Linked DNA regions of Homo sapiens: regions 1 and 3 are each linked to region 2. The links come from fine-mapping of genetic effects on gene expression. A gene starts in region 2. Each other region holds a variant in brackets. All regions are shown on one strand. Distances are between the middles of the regions. Region 1 overlaps ANO10 (anoctamin 10). Region 2 holds the start of ABHD5 (abhydrolase domain containing 5, lysophosphatidic acid acyltransferase). Region 3 has its middle 44 kb from the start of ABHD5.

The links. PIP is the estimated chance that this variant, and not a neighbour inherited with it, causes the effect.
Region 1: its variant is fine-mapped to the expression of ABHD5 in whole blood (TOPMed, PIP 0.90).
Region 3: its variant is fine-mapped to the expression of ABHD5 in whole blood (INTERVAL, PIP above 0.99).

What each region holds. Positions count from the first base shown.
Region 1 is chr3:43,444,773-43,447,533 of GRCh38, reverse strand. All of the region lies in intron 11 of ANO10 (anoctamin 10), which reads left to right. Among named protein-coding and RNA genes, the nearest start is that of SNRK-AS1, 94 kb to the right of the region's middle. The variant A/G (reference allele first, on the strand shown) is at 1,678.
Region 2 is chr3:43,689,372-43,692,132 of GRCh38, reverse strand. ABHD5 (abhydrolase domain containing 5, lysophosphatidic acid acyltransferase) reads right to left here and starts at 1,195. Exons shown (of 7, transcript NM_016006.6): 1 at 1,094-1,195. The coding sequence starts at 1,140. It also overlaps a transcript of ANO10 not described here. RefSeq lists a silencer at 544-1,023.
Region 3 is chr3:43,733,774-43,736,534 of GRCh38, reverse strand. It overlaps a transcript of ABHD5 not described here. Among named protein-coding and RNA genes, the nearest start is that of ABHD5, 44 kb to the right of the region's middle. The variant G/A (reference allele first, on the strand shown) is at 1,253.

The sequences.
Region 1 (2,761 bases), 240 kb after region 2:
CATTATGAACAGAAAGTTTACAAAAAAAGCAAAATGCAAATGGCGGTTAAGTGTGTGAATAGGTGCTCAACATCATTCAGAGTAAGATAGGCAAGTGGAAACTAAACTGAAACACCTATTGTCACCTTATCAGATTGGCAGAAATCCACCAGAGGGATATCACCTTGGGTCGACAAGGCTGTGGAGGACCAGGGAGTCTCATATTCAGCTGTTGATTGTACATGCGTGCTTAATACCATGTACGGAACAATTTGACAGAATCTACTTATATTACAACTGTGTATATCCTTTGACCGAGCAGTTCTGTCTTTGGGAATGTATTCCACAAATATACTTGCCTGTGCACAAAATGACAAATGTTGGAGGAAATTTATTGCAGCACCCTTACTAATAACAAAAATATTGGAAATAGTGTAAATGTCCATCACTGGTCGATAAAGTATGGGTGCTGTCTAGGTACTAATATGGAAAGATCTCTAATATTAGGAAATACAAAAAAGGAAAATGCTGAACAGTATTTCTGTATGCTCCTTTTATATAAACATGGAGAAAATATTAATATATTCTGATTGTACATGTGGGCAGGAGGCACAGTGGGGCATTGGGAAGATGAGGGCAGGGGTAGGGGTATCACTTTATACCTTTTTTCCTAACCATGTGACTGTATTACCTTCAAACTATAGTTCAAAAAGATATAGGTATATACATTTTTTAATAATAAATTCAGAATAGCTAGGATAAATCGCTTTTGCTGTTGTTAAACCTTAAAAATTATTTTTATCTACCTATGAATATTCATCTTCCCTCGAGTGTTTTCGGTATGGCAAGTTCTGAGTTGTTAAAATTGATTGTTATTGTCACTTTGTAACTGAGAGGGTCTCCCTAGTGAAAACCTGACTTTCTCAAAGAAGTAGTTCAAATTTCTCCTTACTTTTCTGACAGTAGTGTGCCTCAAGCATATCTTAAGAACATAACAAGTAATAAACCATAAACCAGTATTTTCTTCAAGAAAATATATCAGCGGAGAACAGAAAATGTTATCTTTGAAAAAAATATGCAGTTATAAAAAGTTGTAACTCTTTTTTGTTACAAACTCTCTGTTCAATTGTATGAAGTTGCTCTCTCTCAGAGCAAAGACTTGCCAGTTGGCTTTACTTCTTTCATCCCCTTTCTTCTATATCCACTGCCTCTGTACATTTTTCCCACTTCCCTTGCTCTGACAAAGATATCAAAGGTTACATTAAAGCAAAACCTGAGAAGCTTGAGTTATTGCTGATAAGTTCAACAAGGAGTAAATTTAAATGCAATCTGAGAAGTAGAAGATGGGAAGCATTCCTTCCTGAATCCACATGCTCTGTTAGGCCCTAAGGCACAATAAAATGTGGGACATGAACCCTGGGCCCCGAAGCTGATGACAGTGGAGGTCACAAAGTGATCACCCACTCTAAGAATTCTACACACAGTGATATCTATACGTTTCTCTCTCCGCCAGGCTTCTTGTCTTTACTCTCATCAGTGTTTGGACAGCTCCTGACAGAACAAAGGCTGGGTTTGGTGTTCTGTAATCCCAGCTCTTTGGGAGGCTGTGGGAAGATTGCTTGAGCTCAGGAGTTCAAGACCAGCCTGGGCAACATGGCAAAACCCCGTCTCTACAAAAAATACAAATATTAGCTGGGT[A/G]TGGTGGTGCACACCTGTAGTCCCAGCTACTCTGGAGGCTGAGGTGGGAAGATCACTTGAGCTCGGCAAGCAGAGGTTGTAGTGAGCTGAGATAGTGCCACTACACAGCCTGGGTGACAGAGTGAGACCCCGTCTCAAAAACAAAAAATACAAAAAAAAAATGCATTGCCTGTGTTGTAGGCAATGATATTTCTAATGTAAGGAAACATGGTCATAGATTTGGGAGATGTAGGTCATTTTCAGGATATTCACCCTTAACCTGAGAACTGGTTTAGCAGATTTTGCTGAGTTGTTTTTAGATGGTTTGTTTGGAATCCTAGTTTAATTATTCATTGTTTTACCTGTGATTTTGGGATAAATATATATGATAAAGTAAAAGTCTTTTTAAAATAAAGTTTTTAATTTTAAGATAGTTTTAGATTACAGAAAAGTTAACAAGCTAGAACTGATAGTTCCCATATACACCATAGCTAGTTTCCCCTACTTTTAACATCTAACACTGGTATGGTACACTTGTTATAATTAGTGAACAACTATTAATATTATTAACTAAAGTTCATGCTTTATTCAGATTTCCTTAGTTTTTATCTGATAAGACTCATCTTGTATATTTCCTGCTGCGGTCCTAGACTCAGCCATTTTTCCAAGGAGCTCTGGTTCCTTTGTTTTGGACAATGGTATTAGAAACCAAGATCTGTGTGCATCTCTTAACTTTTTTTTTTTTTTTTTTTTTTGAGGCAAAGTCTCACTCTGTAGCCCAGGCTGGAGTGCAGTGGTGCAATCTCAGCTCACTGCAAGCTCCTCCTCCCGGGTTCATGCCATTTTCCTGCCTCAGCCCACGGAGTAGCTGGGACTATAGGCACCTGTCACCAGGCCTGGCTAATTTTTTGTATTTTTAGTAGAGACGGGGTTTCACCGTGTTAGCCAGGATGGTCTCGATCTCCTGACCTAGTGATCCGCCCGCCTTGGCCTCCCAGCATCTCTTAACTTTTAACCTGAATCCCTCTATTTAAGATGGATTTCTTGCAGTTAACATAGTTGAGCCTTGCTTTTTATTCTAACTCTGACATATATTTAGGCCACC
Region 2 (2,761 bases):
GAAGTAGAACCGACGTCAAAAAATTAAATATATATGGGGGAAGTTTACTTTCCAATACAAACGACAGGCCTTGAGAAACAAGGCAATAACCTCCATAACAATTTAATTATTCCACTCATTAACTACTATTCTTCTACTAACAAGTGCAAGAAGTCATTTAGGTGTAGAAAAGAATAAACTCACTATACCTGTATATAAAAAAGTTTCACATTAGACATCTGCCCTCCAACTTCCACAGTTTCCTATACATTATGTGTGTTCTTCTAAGGCACATGCAACACACACTTCGCCAGTAAAGCCAGAATAATCCCAGAAGCGCAAACAAATAAGGGACAGTGGAGCTTGCAAGCCAAAGACCTTCATCCGAAAGATGAATTATGACATTTGAACGTGTATCTCTATCTTAAGGGCTAACTTTCTTTCTATGAAGTATCTGAAACTCACAGCCATACACCCACTTCCCTCACTCCTTCTCCCCTCCCTCCTTCCCGGCACCCCCGCCCTCCCGCCGCTTCCCGGGCGAATTCGGGCCTCTAATATCCCCTCCAAGGAAGCGCCGCCCCTTCCTACGGCTACGGGAAGGATCGTCCAGTGGCTGAGGCTGGACAGAGCACAGGTAGTACCTGTAGACGGAAGCCGCGATGGGAGGCTGACAGACCCGGTCATTTCCCGCGCCTCGCAGTCAGGTGCAGGGTCGACCGGGCACCGCCCGCCGGCGGCATTGGGGCAGGCCGGGTCCCTTGGCAGAGCCCGAGCCGGTGCGGCCGCCGCGGCCAGCTCCGTCGCCGGCCCGCGGGGTGGCTTATACAACAACGGGGCGGACCCTCCGCGCGGGGTCAAGGCGGCCTCCCGGCGCGGCCGGAGTCCGGCTCAGACACCTCGGGGCCCCGACGCTGAGGGGAGCCTCTCCCAGGCAGAGCGGCGCCGGGACGCCTCTGGGCGCCGCGCGGACTCATGCCGGGGAGGGTCGAGGAAGCCGCCCGTCGTCGCCAGGCGGGCGGCGACTCCTTGGTGCTGCCCGCTGGGCCCTAACCCGGCCCGCGCGGAGGGTGCGCGCCGGAGACACACGAAGCCCCCTGCCGGCTGCGCTTACCTCTCTCCGGTGTCGGCAGAGTCCACCTCCTCCTCCTCCGCCGCCATAGCCGCCGCCGCGCAAGCGCCGGGACTTATCTCGAAGCCGGCTGACAGGCCGACTGGGCCGCCCCGGGCTGGCGCGGCACTTAAGGCGGCGCAGGCCGCCAGCGCATGCGTCTTCCGCGCACTAGCACGGCCCGGCGGCGCGCCCGCGTTTGCGCGTGCGCGGCCTTGCCTCCGGCTTTGCGTCCGCCATCCCCAGCCAGCATGCACTAGTTCTCCCGCCCGACGCTCCCGGGTGTAAGCGCGGGGCGGGACAGTCAGCCCAGAGGGACTGGCGAGACTCACCCGAATGAGTTAGGTGTTTTAGCTAATTTGAATAATGACTGTATTCATGCATCACCCCGTCGGTGTTGGCTGTCAGGTGGCACCTTGGGGACGGAGGTGCGTCCGGTCCTGGAAGAGCCTAGCTAGTGTCCGATAGATGGTGCAGTGGCAAATGAAATGGCGTAATCGAGGTGCTGTGTGGCGTCCCGCCAGCCTTTCCCCGCGGGTTGGGGGGCCAGGGGGAGAGGGCGACTCACAGGAGCCTTCAGTCAGTTGAGCACTGCTCTAGGTGCTGATGTTACTGTAGTGGCCAGAGCCAGCAATTTCCCTCCCACTCGACTCTCTAGATACCTGGGAGGGTGAAAAGAGTCGGTGTTGGCCGGGCGCGGTGGCTCAGGCCTGTAATCCCAGCACTTTGGGCGGCCAAGGCGGGCGGATTTTCTGAGGTCGGGAGTTGGAGACCAGCCTGAGCTGAAGAAACCCCGTCTCTATTAAAAATACAAAATTAGCCGGGCGCGGTGGCGCATACCTGTAATTCCAGCTACTCGGGAGCCTGAGGTAGGAGAATCGCTTGAACTCGGGAGGCGGAGGTTGCGGTGAGCCGAGATCGCACCATTGCACTCCAGCCTGGGCAACAAGAACGAAACTCCGTCTCAAAAAAAAAAAAAAAAGTCTATGTTTAGGTACTTCGAGTTATTGAGGTGAAATGACTAACCTAAATAGCAGTATTTCTTGACCTGTTTTCAAGCCTTTTAGCAATCAGGTGCAACCTGCTTTTGGAATTCTGCCACCCACTACTACTCATCCATTTATGTTTGGTGTGTGTCTACTATGGGCTCACTTTGTTCTAGGTGCTTGAAAACAATGGGTTGAAATACTGCTCCTGTTTTGATAGATCCTACGCGAATATATTAACCTTTATTTTAGACTCAGTTCATTGTTCTCCTTCCCTGACTCTCCTCCCTCTTTTTCTCTCCTCTGAGCCCCACTGTAAACCTGTCTTTATCACCCATCTAGCTCTCAGGTTCTCAGCCTTGTGTAATTGTTACAGCTTTTAAATAAACATTATCGAATATCTTTCCAACTACACGAGAAAGTCCTCTAGGATAGGAATGGTGTCTTCTGTAATTTAGAGGGGGGAAAGCCACTTATAATCTCTTAGGCATAGTAATAACTAATACATTTTTTATTGTGTTTGATCTAATTCATAAAATATTTTAGGGAAGACCAGAACATATAAAAAACATTTTTACAGGAATTCCTGGTTGTTTCATGAAAGGGCCGTATATTCAAAGTGACCTCCAAATACAGAAGGAGCTGAGAAACTAAAGAATGAAGGAGACAAATCCAGCTTGTCAGC
Region 3 (2,761 bases), 44 kb before region 2:
CCCCAGCTCTAAATGGAAGGGATCCAGCATCTTTATTCTTTTATCTGGTTGTCCAAAGCCCCAACCTGTACCATCCCCAAAGCTCCAAAATCGCCAAGGAGGTCAGACATACCTAGATTTGTGGCAGGCTTTCACCTCTTTGCAAATCAACCTTTCCAGGCTCTGTCTCCTCATGGGGATGATAACAGCACGCCTCATGGGGTGTTGCGAACATCAGTGAAATGGCCTATGAGACCCTCAGGTGGTTATTCAGTACATCTTAATGTGTGGAGAAACTGAGGTCTGGGAGGTGATTTCTGACTCCCGGGGTTGTTGAGCAGGTCAGAGGAGAGGGGTCACGAGAATGCAGGTGGCATGCAGCCATCACCCACTCAGTGATTGTCGTCTTCATTTCCTTTATCTTCTTCCTCTCTCCTTTCCCATCTCCCAACTTACCATCAAGCCTCCTCCCCATCCCATTGTGAGGATGAGGCCAGGGATCCCTGATAGGCTTGGGAGGTGGACAGGGTATTTTTGACAGATGTGTGTGGTCATAAGGGCCTCCCCGAGAGCTGAAGGCTAAAGTTAGGAACATCAACTCTCACCCTAGAAAACCCTCACACTTCTGAAGGCGTGACCAGGCCTGGGAGGCCACATTCTCCACTGCAGGCCCTGCCTCCCGCAGCCTGTGTCACCTTTACTCGGGTGATGAGCCTCTCTGCCCATGGGGCCCCTCATGTAAAACTAACAGGAGAGGCCTCCAGCTCAGGGCAGGCCACAGCTGACCTCAAGTCCACAGAGCACCCAGGGCTGGCATAGGGGTGGAGACTTCTGTTCTTTGGCCCAGCATCTCAATTCCTTGCCATGACTCCCATCCCTTGTTCTGAAAAATCCAGAACTAGCCCCTCTGAGCTTTCTCTGGCCACTCATTAGTGAGGGGATAAGGAGACACAAAATAACTACAAGTCCAAAAGTCAGGTGGGAGGAGAACCACTGAGAAGGCTGGGTATGGATGAAGCAGTGTGGGTGAGGGGAATGCAGAGTGTTTCATTTTGAACCATAAATCCCAGCACACCAGGTACCAGGTTAGCGAAGCCCTGGCCTTGTCCCTATGGGACAATGAGAGCACTTGTTCTCATTCCCCAGACACTGAGAAAGGCAGGGAGCTGGACCCAGGAGAGCTGCTGAGAGCAGGGAGCTGCCTCCTCCATCAAGTTTACCAGCATGGTGGGAGGTGGCTGGGAGTAGAGAAGAGGGGTTTCCAAACCTACCA[G/A]AATGCTGGCACCTGCGGTCTAGACATACCTGCTAAGATTGACCTCAGATCATTGCCTACCCCTGGTCCCGATCTCCATCATACTTCCTAGAGGAGTTGGGACAGAGTGAGCCTTCAGCCCAGACTTCTCTTTATAGTATATAAACAATTGTGGTTTTGGCCATTAAAAGTAATGGCCAAAACCGCATTTACTTTTGCACCAACCTAATACTTTCTCTCCTTTGTGCCCCCAAACTCTTCTCTCCTACAATCAAACATCTTCAGGAATTCTAGGCCCCATTTTAGAAATTCAGCATGATTTGGTTCAATAATTATTCAGTGAGTACTCACTCTGGGCCGGACATGAGCAGGTGTTTCTACTTAGAGGTTTCAGCATCACATCAAATGCAAACTAAATTTTCTAGAAACTAAAGACTGCATATTTATTCAAATATATCCAGTGCTTCAGTTTAAGGCAAGCTTCTCCAATCCATGGCTGCAGGCCACATTCAGCCCAGTATGACTTTGAATACAGCCCAAAACAAATTTTTAAGCCTTCTTAAAGCATTATTAGATTTTTTTGCATTTTTCTTTTAGCTCATCAGATATCGTTAGTGTTAAGTGTATTTTATGTGTAGCCCAAGATAATAATGCTTCTTCCAGCGTGACCCAGGGAAGCCAGAAGGTTGGACATCCCTGGTTTAAGGCTTCCTCTCTGTTTTTACACCTCACCATCCCCTATTTTCATGATGACCTTACACCCTCCGGAAAATTCAAGAAATCCCATACCCATAAGCCCTTCCTTTTAAGGTGACTTTCTTGGATCAGGGTCTCTAGTAGCAAAGCCTAAGAAAAGAATTCTTATATATTGGGTTTTGGGGGCTCTCAAGAAACGCGAGGAGAGAGAAATAGGCTGGAGTGAGGGAAAGAGCTAATTAAGGATGTAGTTTAATCTGAAGTTTAACTTCAGCCAGTCCCACAGGTGCCCAGGAACACAAATTGCACCACAGACTGGGTCCCACCTGGAGGCAAGAGGGCAGGCTTTCTGCACCCACGTGTCAGTCAATCATCGGCTGCAGGGGTGTGATCTCCCAGGTGAGGAAGCAGCTGTTTGGCCAAGGGCAATTCTGCAGAGGAGACAGCTATAAGCCACTAGGGGACATCTTCCTGACAGTTGGGGGTAGTTGCACCAGCACCGTAAAGAGCACCAAGGCATCTACTGACAGCATCCATTCATGGTCACCAGAAAGCACACTGCAGAGGGAGAGATCCTTGAATTACTATTCATCCAAGCCCAGCATTCCACAGACAAGAAAACTGGTGCAGACTGGGTGACTTGCCAAGGCCACTCAGCTCATTGGTTGGGGCACTGGGACAAGAATCCAGACTTCCTGGCTCTCAGACATGGTTTTGCGGAATGAGCTCTGAAAAAATAGTAACAGTGTTAATGAATCAATTCTCAATCATGTCATCTTAAAGACATTCTCTGAGCAACCTAACATGATGCAATCACCACCCATTTGCACACAG